Linked DNA regions of Homo sapiens: regions 1, 2, 3, 4, 5 and 7 are each linked to region 6. The links come from fine-mapping of genetic effects on gene expression. A gene starts in region 6. Each other region holds a variant in brackets. All regions are shown on one strand. Distances are from middle to middle.

Evidence for each region. PIP is the estimated chance that this variant, and not a neighbour inherited with it, causes the effect.
Region 1: its variant is the best candidate, but not a certain one, in a credible set for the expression of CHST15 in whole blood (INTERVAL, PIP 0.71).
Region 2: its variant is the best candidate, but not a certain one, in a credible set for the expression of CHST15 in whole blood (TOPMed, PIP 0.78).
Region 3: its variant is the best candidate, but not a certain one, in a credible set for the expression of CHST15 in whole blood (TOPMed, PIP 0.65).
Region 4: its variant is the best candidate, but not a certain one, in a credible set for the expression of CHST15 in unexposed skin (GTEx, PIP 0.86).
Region 5: its variant is the best candidate, but not a certain one, in a credible set for the expression of CHST15 in whole blood (INTERVAL, PIP 0.64).
Region 7: its variant is the best candidate, but not a certain one, in a credible set for the expression of CHST15 in liver (GTEx, PIP 0.90).

Annotation. Positions count from the first base shown.
Region 1 is chr10:124,006,645-124,010,708 of GRCh38, reverse strand. CHST15 (carbohydrate sulfotransferase 15) reads left to right here. Exons shown (of 8, transcript NM_001270764.2): 8 at 370-3,041. The coding sequence ends at 560. Among named protein-coding and RNA genes, the nearest start is that of CHST15, 85 kb to the left of the region's middle. The variant T/C (reference allele first, on the strand shown) is at 2,005.
Region 2 is chr10:124,001,120-124,005,183 of GRCh38, reverse strand. No RefSeq gene overlaps it. Among named protein-coding and RNA genes, the nearest start is that of CHST15, 90 kb to the left of the region's middle. RefSeq lists enhancers at 278-843, 844-1,411. The variant C/A (reference allele first, on the strand shown) is at 1,909.
Region 3 is chr10:123,968,967-123,973,030 of GRCh38, reverse strand. No RefSeq gene overlaps it. Among named protein-coding and RNA genes, the nearest start is that of CPXM2, 79 kb to the right of the region's middle. The variant C/T (reference allele first, on the strand shown) is at 2,324.
Region 4 is chr10:124,065,911-124,069,974 of GRCh38, reverse strand. The region is part of intron 1 of CHST15 (carbohydrate sulfotransferase 15); the gene reads left to right. Among named protein-coding and RNA genes, the nearest start is that of CHST15, 26 kb to the left of the region's middle. The variant A/G (reference allele first, on the strand shown) is at 2,044.
Region 5 is chr10:124,041,619-124,045,682 of GRCh38, reverse strand. It overlaps CHST15 (carbohydrate sulfotransferase 15), which reads left to right. Exons shown (of 8, transcript NM_001270764.2): 2 at 1-16; 3 at 764-1,103; 4 at 3,236-3,382. Among named protein-coding and RNA genes, the nearest start is that of CHST15, 50 kb to the left of the region's middle. RefSeq lists an enhancer at 2,209-2,448. The variant A/G (reference allele first, on the strand shown) is at 1,896.
Region 6 is chr10:124,091,181-124,095,244 of GRCh38, reverse strand. CHST15 (carbohydrate sulfotransferase 15) reads left to right here and starts at 1,647. Exons shown (of 8, transcript NM_001270764.2): 1 at 1,647-1,776.
Region 7 is chr10:124,047,063-124,051,126 of GRCh38, reverse strand. The region is part of intron 1 of CHST15 (carbohydrate sulfotransferase 15); the gene reads left to right. Among named protein-coding and RNA genes, the nearest start is that of CHST15, 45 kb to the left of the region's middle. RefSeq lists enhancers at 124-624, 1,666-2,166, 2,167-2,667. The variant A/T (reference allele first, on the strand shown) is at 2,325.

The DNA.
Region 1 (4,064 bases), 85 kb after region 6:
TGCTCGGCAGGCCGCACGTTCCTCCAAGGACGGGCTGACACCCATGGAGAGCAGCCCACCAAGGGCAATTGGAAGGGAATCCTTGAGGTCAGCCTTAGACGCTGTATCATCATTAAATGCCAGCTGGGCTCCCCCGAGGGTGGGCATCCTGCACCCGCCGCAGAATTTCTTCGCAATTTCCTGATGGTGTTTCCACCTTCCTCCCTCAGTGCTTCCAAAATGGATCCAGCCAAAGAATTTTAATCCCTAAATATGTTCTCTTAAAGGAAACTCCTGTCTGAATACGAAGCATAGCTGGGATTTTTGCAAAGTCCCTTTTACTTCCTGCCATGCCTCCTGCCTTACGGGACTCGTCTTCTTTTATTCTAGGGCCCTTAAGTGAGAAGCAGGAGGCTTTGATGACCAAGAGCCCCGCATCCAATGCACGGCGTCCCGAGGACCGGAACCTGGGGCCCATGTGGCCCATCACACAGAAGATTCTGCGGGATTTCTACAGGCCCTTCAACGCTAGGCTGGCGCAGGTCCTCGCGGATGAGGCGTTTGCGTGGAAGACGACGTGAGAGCTGAATTGTTGCTGCACGTGCTGGGCCCGCCAATGCCGTCATCATCAGGATTTTACAAATCTCTTTGCGGGGAACTGTTTCACTCATGGTATGGAAAACCCCAGGACTCTGCCACTCTAGGCACACATGAATTATAACCATTTTGGAATTTCCTTCGTGATGTTCGAGAGCTCAGCAATGGACCCCTCACAGAGCTCCTCTATCCGAGGCCATTGGAGACCCCAGTTTCTCAAGAATTCAGCTCTGCTCTGAGCGTCCTGGAGCTTGGGGATGCAGCCAGCTGGCCTGCACTGGGTGTGGAGAGAACACCTAGGGAAGGCAGCCTGGCCCTGCCCGCCTCCGCCTTCTGGAGAGCCTCTGGGTTCTGAGTCAGCAAGCCAGAGGTCATGCCACAGGCCTGGCTGGAACTTACACTTCACGTTCCCTTTTTTTCCCCCTAGAGATGGGGTCTCGCCGTGTTGCACAGACTGTCTGTATTCAATGGCTATCTTCACAGGTGTGATCATACCACATTCACTTCTGAAACACTCTTGTTGCGATCGCTAACCTCACTGGGACAGAGAACCGCAGTCTTTCGAGAATGGAGGCTCTTCATTTTTTTTTTCTCCTTTACTCCAAACTCAGCCCTCCAGTTTCTTCAGATGTAAACCCTGTTAACGTCACTGTTTCCAAAAGGAAAAAAATAAGTCAGTTTTTGGCAGCACCTTCATCTTTCTGACCTCCTCCTATTCTGTCCTTGTGGACTTATGTTTAACATAGAAAATGAATGCGTTTAAAACAAAACCACTTTCTGCATTTAACCAGTCCTGGCTCTCTCTCTGCTGCCTCTTCATACGTTTTCTCAAGAACTTCAGTTTATAATTGGAAGAGAAATTTTTGCTGTTAATGCCAGAATGAGCAACCTCAAGGAATTGAACACTTCTTGGAAAATCTAGGTAATTCAAGCCCTCATCAGGTTTACAAGATCATCAGAGAAACAGAGGATTTTAATTTTTAGTTCTGGCCGGCTACAGGCTCCATTTCTCTGCCTTCCCATTGGAAATAGTTTATTTCCACATTCTCCACTGCGTGTGGTCAAAGTTCCTCACCCAGCAAGGGACTATAGATACTCGTGTCCCAATTCCAAAACACAATGCACAAGCTGAACTTGGGCTGAACGTGGCGTGTTGAGATTTGGAATGAGGTTTCTAAGAGCCGTGTTCTTCATGGAATTTTCCAGGCCACTTGGCAGCTTGGTTTACCGATGGATGGGCTAGAGATCTTGTCGTTTCTTGGAAGTCACAGGGAAGATTGAAGAGAACGCTTGAGCATCCTTGGCAACAGCCCAGGTGGGACCTGGATGAAGCTTTGCACTCAAGTATTGTCAAGGGAAGCTTCCTGTGAACCAAAGTTCTCAGGCCAAGGTCTCGCCCACCAAAGCCAGAAAGTGCAAGCACCCGTC[T/C]ACCCAGCTCTAACTTGTATGTGTGAGACAGACCAGGCTTCGGGGGTAGGAGGATCTGCAGTTGTTCAGCCGTCTTTCTGCTGGTGTTGTCTTTCTGCCATCAGAGAAGGGACACACAGCCCGTTCGAAGGTGTGCAGAGGGCTCTGAGCGCCAGGATGGCCAGGGCTGTTTTTGCTACTGAAGGAGCGTGTGTCCTGAACTCCCACTTGCAGGGACAGTCCCCACCTTCTCTATAGCCGGCACTGGGAGCAGCCGCCAGCAGGGAAATCTGGCCTGAGCACAAGGATGCTTTAGGGAGAGATCACTTCAGTGTGTGTGTATATTTATTTGCAGTACAGTGCGCGCGTGTGTGTGTGTGTACGCGCACGTGTGGGTGAGTGCGTCTTCTGAGTGGGTTCTGTTCAGTTGCTAATGAGGCTCCTCCGCTCTGGACACAACCCTTTTATAGATTAATTTCTCTGCCAATTAACTTGTCATTTTCAGTACATATTTTACTATTCCACACCAACCATAATTACAACAAGGGATTTTTCTTATGCACTCCTATGCATGTGAATAACATGTGGTGTAATTCTGCTTCTTACAGAAGTATTACTGAAGGTATTATTTCCAATATTATTTGGTTTATTATGCGGATCTTTTTTATATATGCAGTCCCATCCCTTCTGTGCCACTCAATGCCATCCAGACATGGTTTTTCCCTCCAGGGGCCTTTCTCTCCAGAGGGCACTTCGGCTGCCTCTGCTTCCTCTCATTCGAGGCCCGGCTCTTGCTGACAGAATAGGTTCCGTTCTGGGCGGTGGTTCTCGAGCCTGCCATTCAAAACCAAAGCAAATTGGAGCATTTCTCACAACATGGTATTGAAGTTCCTTTTTGTTCTCAAAAGTTGTGACCGTGTTAAATTGTACTCCCTTAGTCCTGTAAGGTATGTTAAGTGAATCGCAGTTACGCTGTACTTTTATTAATATTTAACATAATTAAAGATGGACCCATAAGAGTGACGCCTGTGGAGCGCGTGCTCTTCCTCTGCAGCCAAGCTCTTCCTGGTGCATGAGTGAATCGCAGTGGTTTAGTGTCGCACCTGCTCGAGTTGTGCAGGCTCTGTGTAAAGAGGAGTTACAGCTGTGCTGGCTGCTGAGAGACGAGGTGTGATTGTGCGAGCAACAGGCAGAAGAAAACTCAAGACCAGAGAGAAAAGGATTCAGATGTTAGCAGGGACTCCCTGTGCGAGTCCTGTTGGGGTGTGAGTCAGGGTGGGAGGTCTGGCCCAGCCACAGTCAGGCCTAGCGTTGTCTTCAGACCTTCAAATTTGAAGGTTAAGTGACCACAGGCCTCATTCCGGTGGCCTGCCTGGCCCCTGGCAGCTGTGAGTTTGAGACCCCTGGTGTCTCTGGCACATGTCCTTATTGCTGAGGGCAAGCCCGCAGAAGGAGGTGTGGTGTGCACTCAGGTGGGGCAGCCAGGACAAAAGACCACAAACAACGGAAACTGATTTTCTCAGTCTGGAGGCCAGAGACCCGAGATCAAGGTGCTGCAGGGCTGGTTTCTCTGGGGGTCTCTGTCCTTGGCTTGCTGATGGCTGATTCTCTCTGTGTGTTCATGTGGCCACACACACACACCCCTGCTGCCTCTTCCTCTCCTTATAAGGACACCAGTCGGAGTGGATGAAGGCGTGCTCTGACAGCCTCATCTTAACCTCATCATCTCTTTAAACAACTTTATCTGCAAATGCAGTGACATTCTGAGGTACTCGAGATTGGGACTTCAACATACGAATTTGGGGCACACTTTTCAGCCCATACAGAGGGGACATCTCAGGCTTAGGGCTCTGAAAGCTGGGCCATCCTGAGCACAGCGTGGACCATGGTGGGTCCCCCAGTTCTGGGCAGACCTTCCTGGGGGAGCCTTCTCCCCAGCACCACCTCCCACAGTGGTGTGTTGAGGTAGGGGGCAGGTGTGTCCAGGCTGGAAATAGGGAAGACCCCATCTTTTCCTGCGAGGGTCAGGAATGGCTTTACCCAGCAGGGAATGGAGGACGGGTGGGAGTCAGGAGCAGGAC
Region 2 (4,064 bases), 90 kb after region 6:
CAGGCAAGGCCCTGTGACTGGGGTAGTGGAGTAGGTGGGACAGGGTGACACGAGGGGTCAGGCCACAGACCCACCTCCTCCTCAATTCACATCACAGTGTTTTTCCCGTGGAAGGTCACCTGGTTTCCAAGAGTCAGCCTTGTCCCCCACAATGGAGACAGGACAATTTCTCCAGCTCTTGGTAGAAGTAATTTTTGAGTGCTTACTAGTTATTTACCTTTTTACTTTTTAAAAAATTCTTGTGAAGTTACTTTGTGAGTTTTCCAGGATGTGTGTAAACTACACACATCAGCCACCTAGGTAGTTTTGAGTTGCTTTGAAGTTCAGCTGTTGTTGACTTCAAAGGCAGCAGCTTATGAAAGTTGGAGAAATAGAACATTTTCCAGTCCCTATTCAGGGGTTGGTGACCTCCGTGGCCCCCAGCCTCGTGGCTTTGGGCTTTGGAAGGCTGGTGTCTGGTCTCACTGATGGCTACAGGCTGGACTCACCCCCACCATCTCTGTCCTCACCAACCCTGTCCCCAGCCCCCTGGCTCATCCCCAGTATCCTCTACAAACCTGCTCCTACTCGGGTCCAGGGCAGGAGGCTGAGCACTGTGGGCCATCCTGGGAGCCTCAGGCTGCACAGGTTGCTGACCTTGGACTGTAAGGGCTGAGTACGAAGGCAGAAGGTGGGGATTCTCAGGCAATGCAGCAGGCCTGCGAGAGACTCTGGGGAGGAGCAACAGGGCTCTCTAAATTGCCACCTGCAAGTGGCTGCGTCCTCCTACCATGGGGCACCCAGGACCCAGCTCAGGCTTGCACCTGGGTTCTTCCTTGTTGAACCTGTGGCAAAGCAAGGAGGAGACTTGGTCTACTCCCTCCTGGGCAGCCTCTGCTGACTGCCCTATAGGTGCTGGGCACTGTGTCTGGGACACAGAGACTGTGAAAGGCCTCCTCTCCCACAGTGGAGAGCTGCCAGCAGCATGAGGAGGCCGGGTTCATGCAGGGTCCTTGGCAGGCCTGAGGGCCAGTGGGGATCCTGGGGGCTTTCTGGGGTGTACCCTCAGCTCTGCATGCTTTGAAAGGCCCCTTTAAAGTCAGGTCCTGGTCAGATCTAGAAGCGGGCAAGTCTCAGCTGAGGCTGAAACCTCGGCCTCCCTGAGCCTTGTGACTTGCCCAGGGTCGGAGGCCCAACGCCCCCTGAGGAATTCTCTTCCTGGTACGGCAGAGAAAGGTGGGGGCCAGGGAATCAGGGTGGGGAAATCCCAGCTGCCTCTCCCTGCACCCTGGCCCATCTCCCCCAGGTCATGAGCCATCCCCCTTCGACTGTTTTCCCACCATAAGGGACTATGATTTACATCTACCAAACTCTGCCACCGACAAGGACAGTGTGGGAAGAGGGTGAGCCCTGAGTGGAGCCAGGTGAGCTGGATTCAAAGCCCAGTTCCGCAGCAGAGAGCCTGGGAGAGCCATCTCTTAACCTTGGGTACACCACAGGCCCTTTCTGCACCCACAGGTCTGTCTTGCTCATGAGTGGGTCTCAGAGTTTACAAATATAGACTGAGGATCAGAGAGGCTGCATGCGTGCCTGAGGTCACACAGCTCAGATCCCCAGAAAGAGAGCAGAATGCAGCTCAGACATTCCGAGTCAGTGCTTTTAACCATAGTGCTGCATTATATACCCTCAGCACCAGCCCCAGGCTTCCATCCTCAGTAGCCTGTCTACATTTCAAGGGTTAGTTCTCCTTCCCCTCCATTTCAAATGCCCCCCTTTCAAGTTCCCTCAGGGAAGGCCAGTGGTTTTTGGGGTCACCTGGGCCAGGGTTTTCTGCAGCTCAACCCATCAGGGGTCTAGGTGATGACTGGGATTTCTAGGGGGAAACAAGGGAAATAAACATGGCTTTTTCTGCCAAAAGGCTCTCTCAGC[C/A]GAGACTTGCTGGCACGGATATTGCCCCTGCCCTGGGCTGGCTGGCGTGAGTTGTCTGCGCCTCCCTGAAGGCAGACTTCAGGGGCTAGCTGTGATGGGCTAGCTGCGGTGAGGAGTCCCCTGAGCCCTGAGTCACATCAGAAGCACATTGCTCCACCCCAGGGCTCGGCCTTGCCCAGGGCCTCAAAGGCACCAAACGTATACACCTGAGCTAGAAAGTGTAAAAAAGCCAAAATTTAATTTTCTCAGCAAATATTTTCTGAACATCTACTATGCACGAGTCATTGGGCCAGGCATTGTGGTGAGGGTGGGACATTGTTCATTTGCTCATTCATTGATTCCTTCACTGGTTCTTCCAACAAATATTGAGGGATCGCCAGCCATGTCCTTGGTATTAGAGGCACCTGGGAGAGCAGAGCTGGTCCCTGCCTGCATGCAGTGCAGCAGACAGATTTTGATCAGAAACAGACAAGACATTGATCACAGCATTGCCTGAAGCATTTCAGAACTGCAACAGGCATGAGGGGCGATACTGGGGACAGTGACATATTTCTGGTGAGATACCCTCATTCCTCCCCAGCTACTCCACTCTATGACCTCCCCATCTGCCTCAGAGACCAAGCCCCAAGAGGAGGCTGGGCTGGAACTGAACCCCCAGCTTTCCCCAGGCCACACGAAGACCACTCCCAGAATGTTTCAGGCCTACCAGCGCCTCTACCTACGAGGTCACCCCCAAGGCTGCCATGCCCTGATCCTCAGGAAGCCACTGTACCTTGCATTGGGTCCTATGTGTCCCATGGCCCCTCATCCATTCTCAAAATGCCTCCTCCACTTTCATGCTCTGGCTCAAGATGACTGAAGTGTTTCCATAAAGGGCCAGATGGTAAATAATATTAGACTTTGTGGGCCCAAGAGGAAAAACAGGGATATTAGGTACTAATGTAACACAGAGAAAAGAGGTTCCACAAATATTTAGAGATGGAATTCAAAATACAATAGTTGAGTACAATTTTTTGGTAATACAGCTCTGCTTACGAGAAGCAAGGGGTTCTTTTGGGAGTGGGTAACATGCTGCTTCATTGAGGGTCAAGTTGAGTGCACCCTGTCAGACCCTCTGCAGATGCTCGTCTGGAGATGCCATTCCTAATCCAATCTCCTGGCCCTGTTGACTTTGTTGGCAGCTCCTCCTGAAACTCTCACTTGGTCTCCAGAACAACGGACTCCTCGCTGGTCCTCATCCTGCCTCCATGGCTGCACCTGCTCTTCTTTCTGGCCATGAATGTCGGGGTGCCCAGCGGCTCAGTCCTTAGCCCTCTCCCATAACTGTTCTTATCCAGTCCGTGGCCTCAGACGCCATCTCTATGCCGATGACTCCTAGACCTCAGCCCTGAGCGCAGGCTGGTGCACCCACTGCGTGACAGGTGGCGCCCCCAGCATTAATGACTCAGAGCTCTTGGGTCTGTCTCTCCACCTAAGCCGCCTCCCCAGCAGGGTTCCATCTTCAGTCGCAGTGACCAGCCCATGCAGGCCATGTCACTGAGCTCTACCCGGGCGCTGCTCGCCCACACCCACCCTGGAACCCATCTTGCCGGCCGTCCTGCTCCTGCCATCTCTTCTGCGGGAAGGCTCTGCCCCCAGCTTCCTCCTTCAGGCTGACAGCCACTTCCCAGTCAACCTGACCACCCTGACCAAACAGCCACCCCGCCCCTTCCCAAGCCACTCTCTCACCGTCCTGTCTTATTATTTTGTGTAAGTGATCAGGGAAGGGACCATAGTGAGGCAAAGGCACCGGCCCGGCCAGGGTCAGGGAAGGGACCATAGTGAGGCAAAGGTGCTGGTCTGGCCAGGGCCAGTGAAGGGACCATAGTGAGGCAAAGGTGCTGGTCTGGCCAGGGCCAGGGAAGGGACCATAGTAAGGTGATCTCACTTGGTCATAGTAAGGAGACCAATGGTGGATCCTGCCTCATAGGATCCACCATTCTCCCGGCTCTGCCCCCTCATCTTGACCACTCTTGTATTAGTTTGGTTGACTATTTTCTGTATTTTATGATCCTTTGACATCTTGCTGGCCTGGGAAGGACTGCCCTCTCGGGACTAGCTAACCCCTAGATATAGAGGCACTTGGAGCACACCTTTTGTGTGCAAAACGGCCAATC
Region 3 (4,064 bases), 120 kb after region 6:
CCCTATGATCATTGCTATGGCTTTGGTGCGTCCAGACGTGGGATCGGAGCGAACGACACCCCATCCGCTCCCCGGAGCTACTGCCCCTTCCAGGACTGGGAATCAGAGGGCGCTCATTATAGCACTTAAAAGTAGCGCACAAAGACCTGCCCACCCATTCCAGCAGAGACAGCGAGGAACAGCCCGCAACGTGCCCGCCCGGGAGAGAAGCGGCCTCGGCTCTGGCAGCGGACGCCCACCCGCCCGGGAGCCTCCTCCAGGGGCGCTCCCAGCACGGCGAGCAGCACGGCCAGGCGGGGCGTTCAGAGCGGCGGGAAATCGTTCCGCCCTCTCCGTCCCTCCGTCCCTCCATCCCCGCCCTGCCGCTCACCTTCATCCCCTCTTCGCTCCTCCACCTCTCTCCTCTCCCTGCTCCTCCCTTCTCCCCATCGCTGCCGCATCCCTCCCTCCCACCTCCTCCCCTCCCCTGCATCCTCTCCCCTCCCACCCCGTCCCTCCATCCCCTCCCCTCTCCACCCCTCCATCCCTGCCCCTCCCTTTCACCTCCTCCCCTCCCCTACATCCTCTCCCCTCCCATCCCACCCCTCCATCCCCACCCCTCTCCACCCCTCCATCCCCGCCCCTCCCTTCCATCTCCTCCCCGCCCCTCCCCACCTCTCCGTCCCGTCCCCTCCCCCGCTCGTTCTCCGTCCCGCCCCGCCCCTCCATCCCCTCCCTTCTCCACCCCTCCATCCCCGCCTCTCCCATCTCTTCCCCTCCCTACTCCTCCCCTCCCTTTCCCTCCCCTCCCCTCCTCTCCCCTCCCCTCCTCGTTCTCTGCCCCGCCCCGCCGCCACATTTCTGTGGGTTTCCACAGCTCCCCTTCTGCATCACCGTTGACAACTTGAGTTAAGTGGGATCGACTCAGGAGTCAGGATACAAGTACGTTCGCTCGTATCCCTTTTGAATGGCTCCACTGCTGAAAAAAGAAGTTTCAAAGTCATTTCTCATTCATAAATCAAATGCATAATCAATAATTAATATACTGTATTCAATTTTAAAAAATATGTACTTTTGAGGCGAGCTGGTTTTTCAGGCTTTTCCTGTCTTTTCAAATAAAACTCTCAGACCAGGAATGGGGAAGGGGGAGGAGGGGAAGAAAAGAAGTTAAACCTTGTGAGTGTGAGAATGTATATTGGGTGTGTTCGTGTGTGGGTATTTGTGATTGTGTTTGTATGTGGGTGTGTTGGGGGTGTTTGTGTGTGTGATTGTGTTTGGGTGTTTGTGGGGTGTTTGTATGTGTGGGTGTGTGTGGAGTGTTTTTTGTGTGTGTGTGTTTATGTGTTGTGTGCGTTTATGTGGTTGTGGGGTGTATGTTTTTGATTGTGTGTGGGGGAGTGTTTGTGTGTGTGTGCGTGTGTGGTGTTTGTGATTGCATGTGAGTGTGAAGTGTGTATATGTTTGCGATTGTGTTTGTGTGTCAGTGTGGAAGTGTTTGTGTGTGTTCTTGTAATTGTGTGTTTGTGTGTGGGGGGTGTGCATGTGTATGGGGAATATTTGTGTGTGTGGGCATGTGTTGGTGTTTGTGTGTGTTGGGGGTGGGTGTTTATGTGTGATTGTGTGAAATTGTTTTTGTGTGTGGAGGGTGTGTGTGTGTCTGTGTGTGGGGGGTTGTGTGTGTGTAGGGTGTTTGTGTGTGTGACTGTGTGTGGGGGTCATGTTTGTGAGTGACTGTGTGTGAGGTATTTGTGATTGTGTTTGTGTGTGAGTGTGGGATGTGTATGTTTGCAATTGTGTGTGTGACTGTGGGGGTGTTTGTGTGTGTGTGATTGTGTGTGAAGGTGTTTGTGATTGTGTGTTTGTGTGGCGTTTGTATGTATGTCAGTGTGTGGGGGGGATGTTTGTGTGTATGTGTTTGTGTGTGGGTGTGGGGTGTGTGTATGTGATTGTGTGTGTGAATGTGTGGATGTTTATGTGTGGGGTGTGTGTGTGACTGTGTGTGGGTGTGGGGTGTTTTTGTGTGTGATTGCGTGTGTGTGTTTGTGTGTGGGAGTGTGTATGTTTGTACGTGTTTGTGTATGGGCGTGGTGGTATCTTATAGGCTGAGAACCCAGGGCTGGGTCCACTGGTGCGGGAGAGATGCTCCTCTTCATCAGCGACCATCTGGGTTCCTGGGCCTCCCAGAAAAGCAGCAGGTGGCTGCAGGGGGCGGGGCAACGTAGGGCAGGGGGCAGGGCAAGGTAGGGCAGGGGGCGGGCAAGGTGGGGCAGGGAGCGGAGCAAGGTGGGGGCAGTGCAGACGCTGAGTCTTCTGGGGCTAGGCCTGTCTAGCGCTGGGAATACAG[C/T]CCAAGCAAGGAGCTGGAGTGTCTGTCCTCCACAAGTGTCCTCACACAACTGTCCTCAAGTATCCTTGGGCTCACAGTTTAAGCCGGGTGAGTAGCGATCATTCAGGGCTGCGGAGTGCGGTGGGAAGCAGAGGGCGGAACCGCGCAGTGGAGCTGGCCAGGGGACTGCTAGGATAGAGGCTAGGGCACTGAAATGAGCTGAGATGTCGTGGGTGCAAAGGGAGGTGCAAGTGGCCAGACGGAGAGAGTGGAGAGAGGAAAGGAGAGAGCAGCGGGCCAGCTTCATAGCACTTAGCTCCCGCCTCTAAAGCAACCTCTCTCCAGCACTGTGGACTCAGACCCAGCCCTTTTGCCTCTCTGCTTGGGCGTCTAGTGAACTCCTCCCGCTCCCCTTTATCGCTCCTCTTGGGTGTCCAGTGAATGCCTCCTGCTCTCCGTTTGCCCCTCTGTTTTAGTGTCCAGTGAACGCCTCCCACTCGTGTCTTCACCAGCATTGCACACCTGTCCGTCCCATCTCTCAGGAGCCAAGGAACCCAGAGCCATCCTGGGCTGCTACCCCCACTCACATCCCACCCACCTGGGATCCTCTGAACATCTCTGAACTCCTCACCACTGCCACCCAAATCCACTTCACCCTCCTCCTCCCTGCAGGTGACTCGGGGCTCTCTGCGCCCCCCTCTTAACACCCATCGTATGCCGGCAGCTGGAAGGAGCCTTTTGAATATGAGCTGGGAACTGTTGCTCAGCTCAAACCCTGCCATAACTCCCCATTGGCTCAGATGAAAGCCCACGTCCTTCCCATGACCCCAAGGACCTACCCTTTCCCTCATTTCCTCCTTCCCAGCCCCTTGGATCCCCTGGGTTTCTCAAATACCCAGGCCTGCCCACACCTTGGAGCCTCCCCGCTGGCTGATCCCCCACCTGGAAGGCTCACCTGTCACCTTGTCAACGAGGCCATCTGGTCACCCTCCCCTGGCATTCCAGGTGCCTTCAATCTGCTCTTTTTTAAATATATATATATATAGCAATTTCATCTTCTAGAAAACCATCATTTACTTACCGTTTGTTTATCGCTCCCCCCGCCCCCCTACCCCTAGACAGCTCCATGGAGGCGAGGAGTTTTGACTCTTTGCTGTTTGGCATCTTCCATCACAATTGCCTGGCACATAGTTTATGTCCAATAGATATTTGCTGATGGTTGGCTGAATGTGAAGATGTGGCGCCTGGCTGGCCACGGAAGGAACTGGCGTTTTGTTCTGTTAACCGGGATAGGCAATAAGAGAGTTTAAGCACAGGTGCGATGTCAGCTGAGTCGTGCTCAGGAAGAAGGCCCTGCTTGCCCTGGGGAAGATGGGCTGGGCCTGGGGGAGGAGACACACATGCAGGCAGGGGTCATCGTCCCTTTTGTCCCTGAGAGATCCTGGAGCAGGGCTGTCCTGCAATGGAAGTGTCCTGCATTGGCACTGCACCTGCAGCGGCCACGGGCCTACGTGTGGCCCTTGAGCACTTGGAATCTGGCTAGGTGTGGCTGAGAAGTTCGGCTTTAAAATTCACTTTATTTTAATTAAATTAGTGCAATTTACATAGCGACATGTGGCTAGTGGCTCCGTGTGGACCATGAAGTTCTGGAATCATCCGGATTAAAGACGGTGGTGCATGGACAAGGCTGGCAGCAACAGCAAAGGTGAAAGAGGTCACCTTTGGGCTTTATTTGGGAGGTAGACCCCACAGGTTGTACTGA
Region 4 (4,064 bases), 25 kb after region 6:
TGTCCAAAGTCCTACAGCTAAAGGGAGGCACAGTGACACCTTAGATTCAGGGGAACTCCCATCTTGGGGTGACTTCTTTGCCCTCAGTATATTCCACATGTCATGGAACCTAATGGATAAATCTGGTTTGGTCAGGCCTGGAGCGCAGAACTGTTAAAGGCAGGCAATGAGAGAAAAATCTGCGTCCTTCCTCGAGGGATGAGCTGGCTGACTGGGAAGGTCCAGGCTCAGGCTGGCCTCTGCCCAGGTGTCCTATGGCAGGGGCTCATGGAGGAGCACTGTTCCTGTTTTCTGGGTCCCCTGCTCTGCCTCACCTGTTTAAAGTCAGTGACTCAAATTTTTAAAACTGTGAAACCGTAAACTGTCCATCCCTGTTCAGCCTTCCCCAGGCCACGGGCCCTGCACGTGTCACTGCTTGTTCATGGTTCTCCCCTGTGTTGCCTTTGAGGCTCACTCATCTTGATGACTCAGAGACTTGCCAGAGACCCTGGACTCCCCGTCCCAAATTCCCCGAGCCTGGCCCCGATGATTCTTGCAATGTTACTCTGTTCATGGTGCCTCTGCCCCATTTCCATCTGTGCCATATCACCAATAGTTGGGGGGGGGGTCCCCCAAACAACAGGGACTAACTTGAACTTTGCAAGACTCTTGAATTTCCTGGCTATATTTATTATCTGTATGGCACTGATTTGTACTAGAGCTGAGCCTGCAGAAGTCAGTTGAACCCATCCTCTCTATATTCAGGAGGACTACAGGATGTAGGAACTCAAACGGGATGTTGATCTGTGGGAGTTTGCAACTTTGCCTAGCAGCACAGACCTGCCTCCTTGGGAGAGGCCTCTGGGGAGGGATGCTAAGCCGATGGATGTCTGTGCAGAGACAAGGGACTGTCCTTTTCACCTGAGAGGCCATTCTCATCCTGCCTAGTCCTGTCTGATTCACATCTGACCCCAGCTTAGCCCAGACAGAGACATGCTAAAGCATGTTCTGATACTTTCTAGCTTCGATTATCTCCTTGTATGCTTTCTTTGTATACTTAGGGCCCAAAATACCATAAGGTGGAACATTCTAAAGTAAAAATGATCCCCTTTTTATTGTTTGAAAATTTGTGTTTCTTATTAAAATAGAACATTTTACAGTTATTCACAAGATAAGGTCTTACTTTAAAAATCACTATTTTCCTCTGTCTTTCTGACTTCTTTTTTTAATTCAAGAACAGGGATATTAAGGCAGGTGATGAAAGCAGAATTTTTAATAAGAGCATAGTGATGCTTTTCACAACGGACTTAGAAGACATTAAAATATATGTGTTTTGATCTTTTTCTGGATTTGAATATGAAGGACTAGTTATTGCAACAGACAGCAAAGTAATTCATTTCGGATGCATTTCAGCAAGCCAGCCCTCTAGGAGACGCTGGAATAAAATGTGGAAGTGTGTGACACAGACCAGACTGGACATGTACCCGGCCCATCAGCTAAAAAGCCAAAGAGCAGGTGGAAACAGGAATAACAGTGACAGTGATGGTTACCATGATGAGGAGCACTGCCAACGATTCCTGAACTTCCCAGGTGCCCTGTCCTTGCTTGGTGCTTCCCATGGATTATCTCAGTCTTCCCTGTGGCTCCATTAGACTACATATTGTCACATCATCCCCATTTTTCAGATAAGGAACTGAGGTGGGCTAAGTGTCAGGCCGTGGAGCCAGGATGAGAACTCCAGCTGTCTAGATAACCCATGTCCTGGTAACTGCCACTCTGCTCCCGAGTGGTCAGCATGTAAACCACTGCAGCGTGGGGACTGACTTCACCATCCCCTTGGCTCTGCCTCTGACCCCCCGAGCAGGTGAGAGCTCGAGCCAGCTATTCCGGGAATTAGGCATATACTCATTTTTTGCTTCAGTTATTTCACTAATTAAGGCAAAGTTTCTGGTAGTTTGACATTACGTATCTGGATAATTGCCTCAATGTATCATTTTCACTTTGCACCCGCAGACACAACCTTTAATGAAACTTGAAAACCCAACTCTCCTTGGGGGAAATGAT[A/G]CTCACTTCTGTTTCTAGGCCAGGCGCAGTGGCTCCCGCCTGTAATCCCAGCACTCTGGGAGGCCGAGGCCAGCGGATCACGAGATCAGGTGTTCGAGACCAGCCTGGCCAACATGGTGAAACCCCGTCTCTACTAAAAATACAAAAATTAGCGGGGCATGGTGGTGGTCGCCTGTAATCCCAGCTATTTGGGAGGCTGAGGCAGGAGAATCGCTTGAACCCAGGAGGCGGAGGTTGCAGTGAGCTGAGATCATGCCACTACACTCCAGGCTGGGTGACAGAGCAACACTCCGTCTCAAAAAAACCAAAAACACAAAAACCATCTGTTTCTAAATCTGTTTCTGAAAGTAGTTGAGGGCGCAGACTTCCACTTATAAGCTTAATTGCCCAACATGCAGAAGAAGTCTCCAACTTCCCTGTTTATCAGGCTTGAAAGTCAGCCTTGGTTTGGGGCAGATGGCCTGCTCCTGGTCCTTATCTGGGAGATGAGAGGTTCCGACAGTGTGATCTCTCAAGTGCCTCAGTTTGGATCTGAGCTTCTGTTCTAGCGGCTTCCATGCCCAACTGGATTGCATATCTTAGGAAGCAGGACAGAAGTGCACCTGCACTGATTACTGAGCAAATTGGTCTGAATAAGTGCAGTAGATGCCAGAGATTTCCACGAATGATGTGAATGTGATCACTGGCCAGAAAATATCCATGGACGATAAATATCTGGGCTTCATGCTCTGAAAAATGTTCCTAATCTCTTCTTTGTGATCCCCAAAGAGATTTTTAAGGGAGTTTGGAAGTCTGCCACTTGCAGAAGTCCTGGTGTTCCCAGCACTAAGTGCAGGATGTGGAGTCTGGGGTGCGACTGTCTTGTCACTCAGATGGGGCTGCATGCCCGGCACAGTGCTAAGTGCAGCCAGTTACTCTGGAATGTGCAAATGGCCCCTCTGCCCCAGCTGCAGAGCGCCTTGCGGGTGGCTCAGGTCCTAGTGGGGATAGGAAGAATGGGACAAAAGGAGGAGGCTAAGCCCAAGGCATGTGCTGTCACCAAAAGTGCTGGCTTCATCTCAGAAAGCTGTGGCTGGGTTGGGCTTGGTTGCTCAGGGGAACAGGGAGACGCAGCCCAGGAAATGAGCTGTGGCTGGGCTGGAGCCCACCTCCCCAGGAGGGAGGTGCATGGCAGCCCAGGTGGGGTGCCCCCATCCTAAGATGAAAGGTCTCCACCTCTTGCTTAAATTGTAAGGTGAACGCTTTTGGCCATTTCTAAGGAAAAGCACCTTTGGGATTTGTTCATCATCCTTCATTTTTGCTCAAGGTTTTGGGTGTGAAAACCTCAGAAAAACTAAGTCAACCAAAGACTTTCCAGCGATGTCATCGACTGTGTTGTCATCCAAAGGGGAAAATAATCCCAGCTTATGAATATTTAGAAAGAAGATAATTGCAAATTGCTTTGTGACCGTGTAAACTCGTTTTTTTTTTTCTTTCCCCCAGCCAGTTACATAAGAGGAGGTGTGGGTCAGTCCCAGAAATAGATGCAGAAGCAGTGACAGAACACGTCTTGGCGGTGGTGGAGAGAGACAGCCCTGGGTTCGAGTCCCAGACTCGCAGTGTGTTAGCTAAAGAAGTTTGAGAAACATCCGTCTCTTTCTTTCCATTTCAGCCTCCTCCCCCTTCCCCTAGCTGGTCGACGCTCAAAGCTCTCCTAGCCCAACACTCTGTAACTTGAGGAATAATGTTTTAAACCCCCAAATCTAGTCCTCCCATAAAACCCAGTGAATCTCTCAAATTGATTAAATGGAGGCACTCATTTTATTAGATAGGTAACTGGTATTTTGCCTTTTCTGAAGGGTAGAAGAGGGGAAAAAGTGACTGAGGGGACCAAATAAGAAAAAAAAGACAAAAAGACAGAAGAATTCGGGTTTTTAGTTGATTCCGAATACTCGATGCTTTTGAAACGTTTCCAAGTTTCCTTTACGGGAAAGGAATGCAAATGATCCAAAAGGGAGGAGGGATTTTTTTCCCCCTTCTTT
Region 5 (4,064 bases), 50 kb after region 6:
GAAGCAGGAGTTGCATGTGAGTAGCTTTGTGCTAATCTTGACTGATTGGTTGATTTTTAGAAATGAGTGCTTTTCTTTCTATCACCATCTTTGGGAACACAGAAGGAAAATGACTAAAAAATGTCTTAGATGTAGCAAGGATCATTTGACAGCCTTATGGATTTGAATGCACTGAGAGAGTGCTGTTTGCTTACGCTATGGAGTGCCAGGAAGGGAATCTGCTGTCCTGAACGCTGGGCTAGGCATGTTCAAGGGCCGCTGGCTCTCATTATTGCATTCCAGGACTTCTTGCTTGATATGTGGTCGTGGTAGTTAACAGTTGCTTTTGCAGATCACCATCATTTGGGATTTTAAAGTTGCGTTAAATTTGATTTTCTGCTTCTATTCTACATTTTAATCTCTAACGGCAATTTAAATATACAACTAGTAAAAAGATTCTGCTTAATTACCGTGTGTGCGTGTGTGTTGTGTAAGTGTCAGAAAGGTAAATTATGGTAGAATGGATTTTAATTAAACTTTTATCTTTATTCTCTCCAAGTTTTTTTTTTTTTTTTTTTTTTTTTTTTTTTTGTGGGGCGGCGGGGGAGAGGAAAGCACAGTCATTGACCGTCTACCAAGTTTTGCTTTATTTGTTAATCATTGTCAAATATTAGTTCAAATTTGAACACGGTCGTCAGTCTCAGGGCAGGTTCCCATTGCGGTTAGATTGTGTCTTTGCTCATTTTCCCCTCCTCTGTGTCTCTCCTCCTCTGTTTCCTTGCAGATGTTTTCAGTCATCCCCAACAAATTCCTTCCAAACAGTAAGAGCCCCTGTTGGTACGAGGAGTTCTCGGGGCAGAACACCACCGACCCCTACCTCACCAACTCCTACGTGCTCTACTCCAAGCGCTTCCGCTCCACCTTCGACGCCCTGCGCAAGGCCTTCTGGGGCCACCTGGCGCACGCGCACGGGAAGCACTTCCGCCTGCGCTGCCTGCCGCACTTCTACATCATAGGGCAGCCCAAGTGCGGGACCACAGACCTCTATGACCGCCTGCGGCTGCACCCTGAGGTCAAGTTCTCCGCCATCAAGGAGCCACACTGGTGGACCCGGAAGCGCTTTGGTGAGTGCTGGGTCCCAGGGCTCCTGTCTGGTCTCGTTCCTTCATTCGTTCATTCCTCCCGCAACGTTAGCGCTGGGGTTGGGGGGCGAGGGCGGCAGAAAGAGATGGCACAATTCCCTTGTTAGGAGGCTGTTCCCAGGCAAAGACCCAGCAGGGTCTGGAACTCGGTTCCCAGCCATGCAGTGAGCATTGATTGCCAGCTGTGTGCAGGACACGGGGACGAGTCAGAACTGGCAGCTCTTCTTGTTCCGAAAGCCCGGGCACATGACCCGAGCAGTCAGCAGTAAGTGCCAGTGGCCAGTAAGGGCCAGCAAGAAGGGCGTGATCCGGGCTCTTGGCTCCCAGCTCTGTGCTATTCCCTGCTCTGTGCCGCTCCCAGCTCTGTGCCGCTCCCAAGCTCTGTGCCGCTCCCAAGCTCTGTGCCGTTTCCTGCTCTGTGCCGGTCCTCTGCTCTGTGCCGTTCCTCTGCTCTGTGCCGTTCCCTGCTCTGTGCCGCTCCCTGCTCTGTGTTGTTCCCCTGCTCTGTGCTGTTCCTTGGCTCTGTGCTGCTCCCTGCTCTGTGCTGCTCCCTGCTCTGTGCTGTTCCTCTGCTCTGTGCTGCTCCCTGCTCTGTGCTGCTCCCTGCTCTGTGCTGTTCCCCTGCTCTGTGCTGTTCCCCTGCTCTGTGCTGTTCCCCTGCTCTGTGCTGTTCCTCTGCTCTGTGCTGTTCTCAGCTATGTGCTGTTCCAGCTGCAGTCACTGCACCTGGGGGAGACTGAGTTGCTTCAGGCCTCAGCTTCTCTGACCTGCCCC[A/G]TCTGCCTTATGGGTTCCATATGATAACCACATGGAGATCATTCTGGAGGCCTTGCTCTCAGCCCTTTGCCGCAGGCTTACCATGACCACTGCCCATCCCTCTCTGCTCCAGCTTAACCCCATGCACCCTGCGGTCCTCAGATCACTGTTTCCTCTCTGTAACCTTTTCCTTGTGCCAGGAGAGGTTTGGTCACTGGAGCTGAGGGGTGATACGTGCCTATTGTCAACCAGAGTCCTGGCAGGCCACGAGGGTGTTTTCCAGTAATGGACTCAGGTTGACTAGAAGGGAATCTTCAAAGTTTTCCCTAGACCAACTCTTAATGTGTTTCCTGACAAACGTTTGCTTTCATCCTTTTGATGTTCGTCCTACAGTGAGCTAAAGTGTAAATGTTTCTTTTGTGGTTTAGCAGCCGCCACTGTAGGAGCCAGGGTTTCACATCCCTATGCATTTGCTGGACGTGTCTGAACACACTCCCTTGCTGTAGGGTGCTCCCCCGAGGCTCACAGTGATTTCCCCTTAATGAAAACCAGCTTTCTACCGGCAGGAAAGGAGGAAGAACAGAGGCGGGCCTCTGGAATCTAGTCTTCAATGTCACCTTGAACCTCTTGTTACTTTGGCCACGGATGTTCTCTTTCCAATTTCCATTGACTTCAGGAGTTGTGGTGTTGGGAAGTGGATTTTTAAATGTTTGCAAGTGAAATTTATTTATTTTTCAGGCAGGGGGTGAATTTAAGCTGTATGTGGCCGATGCCAGAATCCATGTCTGTCTAGAGTATGATCAGTTCCCCTTACTGTTTGGACAAAGGGCAGGGTATTTGATTGAACAGGGGGAGGAGAGAGAACATCAGGCAGGTGCTGGCTGGGCCCCATGAGGAAGGCATCATGGAGTTTATAGGATACTGCCCTTCTCTCTCCTGTGGGCAGCCCTCGGTCCTCTCTCCCTGTTTGACACAACACATGCATCCTGGGTGTCATCGCTGCCCAGCCACTTACGAGTCCCACCTGTGCACAAGTTAACCAGCCCCAGACTTTGTCCCTCCAAGCAGACATGTTTCTAGCTCTTGAGTAGGTGTTCCAGCCTTTAATCTGCCACTGTCTAGCTTAGTGGTGGTATCTTCCAGCCCTTGAAGCATGCATGGATTGAAGTGGGTAGCCAGGCCGCATAGACCCCCACCCCCATCCCCAGCAGCCCTTTCTGAAGCTTACCTGGGCTGAGCCTCTTGCTGCTGTCGCCAGGCCCTTTAGGCCTTTCCATCTCTCTTTGGTTGCTGTCTGGGAGGCCATCGCTCCAGCAGTAGCAACTTTGTCCTCAGTATCTCCTGCTTCTTGGTTCTCATAGGAATCGTCCGCCTAAGAGATGGGCTGCGAGACCGCTATCCCGTGGAAGATTATCTGGACCTCTTTGACCTGGCCGCACACCAGATCCATCAAGGACTGCAGGCCAGCTCTGCAAAGGAGCAGAGCAAGATGAATACAATCATTATCGGTAAGGCGTCTGTGTCACTCTGGCAGGGCTAGCACCCTCCCTGGGGTCCTGGCTCTGGCTCCAGGCCTAGCCCAGCTCTGCTTCACCTCCAGAACATTTACATGGTGGCAGCAAACTTCTTTTGAGCCTCCACTTCTCCACCTGGCTGTCACTCTTACCACTACATAAAATGTTCACATCACTTGAACATTACTATAAAGTGGAAATGTTGACTTTCTAATTCTTTGGAGACTTAAGGACAGCTGATGGCTTTCTTGAGAAGTTGCCATTTCTTTGTTTTTAAGAAATTAAGCAGGGATATTGACTTCTTTTCCTGATGTACTGATCTGATAAGTTTGGATGGGGGAATTATAAGTGCAGTTAACTGGTTAGTCATCGATTTGCTGCTTGGGGCTTTTGTAATCCCTGGCCACTGGGACCATATAAGACGGAGGCAGCTTCTCCTGAAATAGACTCAGCTCTGACACATCGCCTATAACTAATTGCTGTTTAAAAAGCCTAGCCCCTGTCAACCTCATGCCTTTGGGCATTCAAAGTGAGGTTGATTAATAATAATTTGTTTTAAATATTCACAAGAATATTTTATAAGTAAACATACATATTTACTCTTTAAAATTTATTTTTTATTGTATAATTTAAGGTGTACAGCATACTGTGATGTTTCGATGGAAATAGAGACAGT
Region 6 (4,064 bases):
CAACCAACCCTCTTTAACAGCAACCTGCTCTGTGTCCCCTGATGCAATTACTCGAGTATATAAACCTCACTGAAAGGCAGGCTTTTCTTGGGAGCTAATAAATAAGCCCCAAAGCCACAACGTGTGTGAGACCTTGAAAAATGGCATCATCATCTATTGGGAATTGTGAACCCTGCAAAAAGCAGCTCGTTGTATTTTCAGAAATAGGTTTTTGTTTAAAAAAAAAATAAAGAACAAAAATCACTAAGTGGAGTCTATATGGAAAAAGCAATCTAGTCTGAGATTCTAAGGCAAGTCTCTTTGCTGCATTCATCTTTCTTCGCAGATTTTATGTAAGAGGCATTATTTGCAGGAAAACAAGACAGGATTTTAAAGAACTCCCCTCTCATCCCGGTTTCCCATCTGCAGTTATAATCCTCTGATGGTGACCTCTGCATTAGTTGCCATGGGTGCTGAGCAGAAGTTTATGACCTCAGGGTGGACTGTAGCTTCAGGGGGGCGAGATGAAGCCTCCGGCAATAAAGAGATAATGGGGAGAAGCCACTGTCAGGAATGACCCTTCGGTGGCATGTAGTCTACAGTTAACGGAGCACTTTCATTTCCACTTCTGGTTGCTTCGAGGAAGAGGGTGCTGGACTCTGGCCACGGGGACACAGGCCGGCAAGAGACTGCAGATTCTTTTTGTCCCTTGGACCTCAGTTTCCTGAGAGGCTGGGCTTGGTGCTCCAAGCGCCCTCTGAGCGAATCTGCCAGAATTTCATGTGTCTTTTCTTTAACTGATGGCATCTTCAGCCCAGAGTCAGTGGAGTCGGCCACTGGTGCCGCTTTCTTGCCCTCGGGCTGTCCAGGTGGTTCCCTGGGGCAGCCGACTCCAGGCCACTGCGGCAGGCCGTGGCGATCGGGGTCCTGCAGAGCTTTACCTCCCCCGCGGAAGCAAAACACGCCGGGCCAAAGAGCCGGGCCAGCCTTCCCGGGATGCAAAAATACAACAGAGGGCGCCGAACTCACCAGCGCTGTGGCCTTGAATATTAATGTACGGGCTGGCTCCAGACCGCCAAGTTCCTTAAAGATGTCTCTGGCGGCCGGGCGCGGTGGCTTACGCCTGTAATCCCAGCACTTTGGGTTGGGGGGGCGGACGGATCATCTGAGGTCGGGAGTTCGAGACCAGCCTGACCAACATGGAGAAACCCCGTCTGTACTAAAAATATAAAATTAGCCTATTTTGCGTGGTGGCGCATGCCTGTAATCCCGGCTACTCGGGAGGCTGAGGCAGGAGACTCTCTTGAACCCGGGAGGCTGAGGCAGGAGACTCTCTTGAACCCGGGAGGCGGAAGTTGCAGTGAGCCGAGATCGCGCCATTGCATTCCAGCCTGGGCAACAAGAGCGAAACTCTGTCTTTAAAAAAAAGAAGTATCTGGCAAGGTGTCACTGCCAGATTTCAGGGGTTTCGATGTGCTTTTATTTGGAATCACCGCAACACACAAGCAGTGTTGACTCGGAGGGGGAGGGGGCAGGGGCCAAACCCACCGCTCGGCGCACACGCCTTGATCTCACATTCCAGACTGGAGCTGATGTGTGTCAGCGCGACATGGGGCGGGGGGAGGGTTCTCCTCGGATGTTTCATTCGCCGTCTGCACGTCACTCCCAAACTTTTCCTCCCAGCGCTCGGGGAGTCAGGTTGACGCGCCCTGGATGCGGGGCTAGAGGCTCGGGGCTGGGCGCGCTCCCGCGGAGCCGGAGCCGCAGAGGCTCCCGGGCTGGACTCAGGCTTCTCAGGTACAAGTTAGGTGCCAGACGCCGAGGTGGGGTCGGCGAGGAGCGGCGGTAGGAGGTCTGGCCCTGGGCTCGGGGCTCCGGCGCCCCTCCGCGGGTTCGGGCCAGGCAGCGCCGGCGGCGGCCGGGGCTGGGCGTAGGGAGTCCGGGCCGGCGGAGGCGGCGCGCAGCCTCACTCCCCGCGGCGCTCCCGGCGCGGTGGTGGCGGTGGCGGTGGCGGCGGCGGCCCAGGCAGACAATGAACTTGCGAGCTCGACGAGCCGAGGCAGGTTTGGGCCCCGGGCTCCTTGGCCCGGCCTCCCCGAGGCTTCAGCGATCCCCAGCGGGAGGAGTCCCTTCGCCATTGGTCCTGGCCGCGCTCCGGGCGCCCTGCGCGCTTGAGGACCCCGCGGGAAGGGTTACCCAGCGGCGACACACGCCCCCTCCCTCGCAGAGAGGACGCGGCCGGAGCGAGGGGACAGGGGACCGAGCAGTGGCGTGGTGGCGCCGTGGATAGCCGGAGGCCGGCGGGGGGCGCAAGCCGCGTGGAACGCACCGGCGGGCTGTCCGGGAGAAGGAGCCCAGTAGTCGGAATCGGGGCGCCCCTGCACCGCCCAGCTCTGGGAGCCGCAGGCGGGGGACCGACCGACGGACAGACCAGTGCTTTCACGGTGTGAGCGCGCGTCGTTTGGCGGTAGGGGACGGGGATTCCCCCCAGCCTTGCGCTCCGCCCCCACACCCCTATCGCACTTTGGGGAAGTTTCCAGGCGCGGCCCGGGGCAGGTAAGTGGGCATCCGCCACTCTCTCCCCGGTTGCGAGCTCGGATGCGCTTCCAGAACCCTGGCTCTAGCCTTGCGGCGGTTCCGGGCGGGGAGGCCAGAGCTCTCCCGCGCCTAAGCCCGTGGGACCCGGTTCAGGGAAGGGGGATGGCGGGGGCGGGCCTGGGAAGAGATAGGGGAGCGGCTGAGCCCCGAGCGGTGTGAACTTTTGCTCCCCGCCCCCTCCTCCTTCCTCCTCCCCGCCCCGCCCCCACTGCTGTCCCCTCCCTGCGCCCCGCCGCGTCTCGGGAGGCGGCGTGACTCGGGAGTTGCCGGCGCTTCCCGGCGGTGGCGGCGTCTCTGGCCGGCCTTGGTGCGGCGAGCCGAGCGAGGCAGCTCTGAGCCGCGCGGTGAGGCCAGAGGCGGGGAGCCGGGGCTGCGGGGCGGCGAAGCTGGGGAGCCGGATGGCAGCGGCCGGGGCGCGGAGGCGACGCTGGCGGTGGAGATGTAATGCGAGTCTGTTGGGTTGTGTGTGCCGGGAGATAGGACGCGGTGGCTGTGGGTGGCTGGGTGGCGGGCTGTGGCGCAATTGGCCCCCTGGGATGGCAGGATAGAGGCGCCGGGGCGAAGGGAACCTTGCCTTTGGGAAAATGAATGAAGAGCCGTGGAAGCACCTTCCCGACTCCTCCAGGCAACCGATGGGCCGGCGTGCGCGCGAGTGTGTGCGTGTTGAGGCTTCGGAGCCGCCCGGGTCCTGGGCACAGCTGCTTGACCTCCCCGTCGCTGTCCGGGTGCCCACGTTCCCGCCCGCCCTGCGCCCGGGGCCGGCCGGCGCGGCTGGGACGGCGGGTATAGAGGAGGAAGGCTGGGGCTGGGTTGCCGGCTGCTGGCGGCTGGAGGTCCGCGCCCAGTGTAGGGAAGTCTTCGAAGGAGGCTGCCAGGCTGGAGGCTGGGACCAGCTCCTGGGGGCGGGGGCCCTTCTTCGTCTGCCTGCGTGCGCGGAGCCGCTGTGACAGCTGGGCGCCTTCGCCTTGTTCACGTTGGTTAAGTTAATTGTACCGAGTTCTCGGGAATGAAGTGTGGCTCCGGGATGCCCCGCAGAGGGATGTGACAAGCCGGTCAGTGAGGCTGAGCAAAGGGGCTAACCTTGCCTCTGGGCGCCCTAGCAGTGCCCCCAGCCCCTCTTTATCAGCTGCAATTCCTGAGTGTTGTGGGATGCCTCGGTGGGTTAGGGTAGCCACCCAGCGTTGGGGCAGAAAGGCCTCGGAGGGCATCTGCACCCCCGAGGGGCCCTGAAGTAAACTGAGGCCTAGAGATTTGCCCAGCGTTTCTCCTGGACCCTCCTTGGACCTTCCTGGACCATTATCCATCCCCCGCTTTCCTGCTTCTCCTCCCAGGACCGGCAACCTTGCAAAATCAGGAACCCTCCCTTCCAGAACATGGCACTTACTAATTTTACAAACTGAATGTTGAACTAGGATCTCTTGATTGATACATAAAGACATACATAGATCATATATGATTTTATTCAAAGTAGTATAGGAATAAAAATG
Region 7 (4,064 bases), 44 kb after region 6:
TATTAAAAATGCAAAAATTAGCCGGGCGCAGTGATGCATGCCTGTAATCTCAGTACTCGGGAGGCTGAGACAGGAGAATCGCTTGAACCCAGGAGGCGGAGGTTGCAGTGAGCCAAGATCGTGCTGCTACACTCCAGCCTGGGCCACAGAGTGAGATTCCATCTCAAAACAAAAAAAAGAATATGTAGTATGCCTTCCTTCTTGCACTCGAGCAAATCCCACCCCTGACTTTGGCCTTCAAGACTCTACAGAGCCTGGTCCCTGCCTCCTCTCCCATCAGGTTTCCACCCCCACCAGCCTGTGCCCCAGGGCCTACCCTGCCAGTAGCCCTCATGGGCTGGGACTCCCCACAGCGTCTCTCTACGGGGCCTTTGCTTCCCCTGGTCTCCACGTGACTGGCTTCCTTCTTGTTCAGGTTTCTCCTCCAACGTCCCCTCTGAAATCAGGTCTTCCCTGTCACCCTGTGTATCATACCTCCCACTTCTTTAAGGCAGTAGCTCCAACCCAGGGGTGATTATGCACCCCAGGGGGCACTGACAATGCCTGGAGACATTTTTGGTTGTGACATGTCAGGGGAAGGGGTGCTATGGCATCCAGTGGGTGGGGGCCAGGGTGCTGCTAAGCATCCTACTGTGCGCGGGACAGCCCTGACAACAAAGCATGGGCCAGCCCTAGGACGGCACAAAGAATTCCAAAACCCTGTTCCAATGGTTGTATTGCTCTCTCCCCCTTTTCTTTATTCTTTTCTGCATAGCCTTTATCTAGCAGCATCTGTGATTATCTTATTCATTTGGGACTTCTTTATAGCTTGTGCCCTGCAGCCCCTACCCCTGGTGGGACAGAAGCTCCACTTGGGAACAGGCCTCCTCTCTGGGTCAGCCCTGCACCACTCGCGCCCGTCAGGGGAGGTCTTGTCTGGAAGCCGCCGGGCTCTAGGGCCTTCACTTACAAGGGACTCACCTGGTCTTCAGATTGCTTGTCCATCTTACTGAGTATTTGACATACTATACAGTGGCTATCGATTTTGGTAAAAACTTGTAAATGTAAGACAGTTTTATGTTTTTTTCTCAGAGAGGCCCCCACCCCCACGCCCACCGCAGCCCAGGGGTATTTTCCAACACCAGCAAATCCTCCAACTCCAGAACCTAACTGATTATCTTACCATTCAATTCAAGTCTGCCCCTACCAGAGGCAGCCTCAGACTCTACCGGTTTGAGGGCTCGGTCTCACCAGACTGCCCCACTTCAGATGCCAGTCCCAAGTATTGGGTCCCCAGGTTACCCGCACATCTGTCCAAATTGGCTAAAAAGGCAAGAGTGTCCCACAACCTCCTCAGGTTCAGTAATTCACTAGAATGACTCACAGAACTCAGGAGAGTGCTTGACTCATCATCAGTCTATTATAGCATAGAATGCAGAAACAGCCAGCAGATGAGACGCATGGGGCGAGGTATGGTGGAGGAGGGTGTGTGGAGCTTCCATGCCCTCTTCCTCCACTCCACCCTCCCAGCACCTCGAAGGATCCACCAACCTGGAAGCTGCCTGAGCCCTGTGGTTTAAGGGTTTTGATGGCGGTTCCATTACAAAGGCCTGATTGGTTAAATCATCAGCCACTGGTGATTGACTTAATCTGCAGCCCTTATTCCCTACCCGGAGTTTGGGGGGTTTGTTGAAAGCTGCTCACTGAGGCTTGGTCTTTCTGGTGACCAGCCTCCATCCTGGAGCTATCCTGGCCCGCAAAGTGTCACCGCATCAGGATACACTCAGGTATGGCTGAAAGGGGCTTGTCATGAATGACGAAAGGTGCTTCTCTCACCCCATCATTCAGAAAAATTCCAAGGATTTTAGCACCTGTGTACCAGTACCCGAGGATAGAGACCAAATACTCATCTCTTATTTCCACATCACATCCCTCATCTTGTATTGGCTTTTGGTCTCCCCCTACCTGGACATGCGCAACACTCAGCTGTTCTTCAAAAGGTATTTGTTGAACAAATGAATGAATGAATGAAAGAATGCTAGGAGCTGAGAAAACACTGTATCTGAGTGTTTTGCTAAGGCTCTTGCAGCATCTCGAATTGCCTCCTCAGGTCTTTCTGTTTAGGAAGCGGGACTCGCAGAGGCCGGGCTGGTTGGTGGGGGCAGCTGCCCCGCAGACATGCTCTGTGGACCCGGTCCGGGCACCCCATCTTCCCTCCTCTCTGTTGAGACTGTCGGCTGCTCATGTTTTTACTTTGCTTGAAATGAGCTGCCCCTGCCCTTGTTTAGGAATGTTTTGCCCATTCGTTTGGGTCCAGATTATGTACATTCCTATCTTGGAGCTTC[A/T]AAGTCCGTGTTTTGTTTGCTTTTTAAAGAATCTAATTCGATTTTCTGCAGCAGAAAGACAGGAGGGTGCGAATTCCCTCCCCGCTGAGCTGCTGGTTGGAGTCTCATTTTTAACCCCGGCTTGGCCCTGTCTTGGACATGTGAAAAAATGTTTTCTTGGCTTTAATGATGGAGTTTCCAAGTAGGGGATCTTGCCCTTTTGTTTCTTTAGTTTGGAAGAATTGTTTGTAGCAAGCGATGGGTCAGGGGTGGTTGAGCAAGTTTGAAGCAGAGGTTGATCCTTGAGGTTTCTGACATGTCCCTCCAGCTGCCCTCAGGGATAAGAGATGGGGGTAGGGCCTGAGATGTCTGGCCTGGCTTCCCAGAACTGGCCCCTTCTGCATCCCCGCCCCAGCGCCTCTGCAGGACTCAGGTCTCAGCCTCTACTGACCAGCCTTTCTCAAACTGGCTCCTTGATACCCTAGTGAGATTCCTTGGCCAATTAGGTACTTCCAACTTTGTGTATTATATTCCTCTCTTGTGGATTCACAGGGCTTATTAGCATATCAAAGGCCCTGAAAAGTTCAGCTGTAAAGAATTCTGTGTAATTTTGTCCATTCCACATTTTCTCCAAATAATTTAAGCACAGAACACTCACCAACGGCAAGCAGAACATTTTGTGGGAGGAAGACATTTTGGGAAACACAGCTTGGCTGTTTCTTGGCCACCATATTTTGAGAAAACATGAAGTTTTCAGTCCAAGGGGCATGAACATTTCTTCTGTTGAGTTCTGATTGTTTAATCCTTCAGCCAGTACATGGCGATCTTGATGCGCGGTTAGTTAATGCTGCCTCTATGGAGACAGTGAGGGTTGTTTGAGGGGTGGCGTGGGTAGAGTTGGAGATGAGTCTACCACTCTTGGGTAATTTTCAATTGCTAAAGAATAATCATGTGGTATAGGATCTCTCATCTTTGATTCCATTTCAAATGTTTTTGGCATTCACTGACAATGAAAAATCATCATCATAATAGTTGATGATGCTATTATTATCAATGCTGTCTACCTTTTATGGTATGCTAAATATGTGGCAGGCATTATTCAAACTGTTTACATGTAGTAGCTAATTTAGCACCTGTTAAGGTGTCCTTATTATCCTAATTTTACTATTGAGGAAACCAAAGCTCAGAGAGGTTATGTGGCTTGCTCAGGGTCACACAGCCAATTAGTGGTGATCTACCACTGCTAGAAACTGAGTAGGTCTCCTTTTATGCTTATCCATGGCTCTTTCTACGACATCTACAAAGAAGTGTCATTTGGGCAACAATATATTTTATAACCACAGGATTCTATTAATGGGTTTTTAAGAATCATATCTTGCTCGAGATGATGAAAGTGAAAAATTATGTCAGGTTCTGAAGCTCTGTGTCACTCGAGGGAATCCTATACATTGGATTTAATTGCTTAATAACTTAAAGTCAAGTAGTTTTTTAATATGATACATTCTACTGAAGGAGAGACTCATTTCATTGTTTCTAAATTTTCATTAACTTTTGCTTCCTAATCTGATAATAAAGGTTAACTCTAAGAAAGAGACTGCTGATGCCAGTGAGAGGGAAAAAACACATTTTCTCTGCCTGCTCCCTTTCTAACCATCCTCCTTAGTATTCTTGAGATTTTTCATTGACTGAAAAGCACTGATATTTCAATCCATCCCTCAAATTTGTAGTCATTGACTGTGCATGACTCTGAGAATGATCACA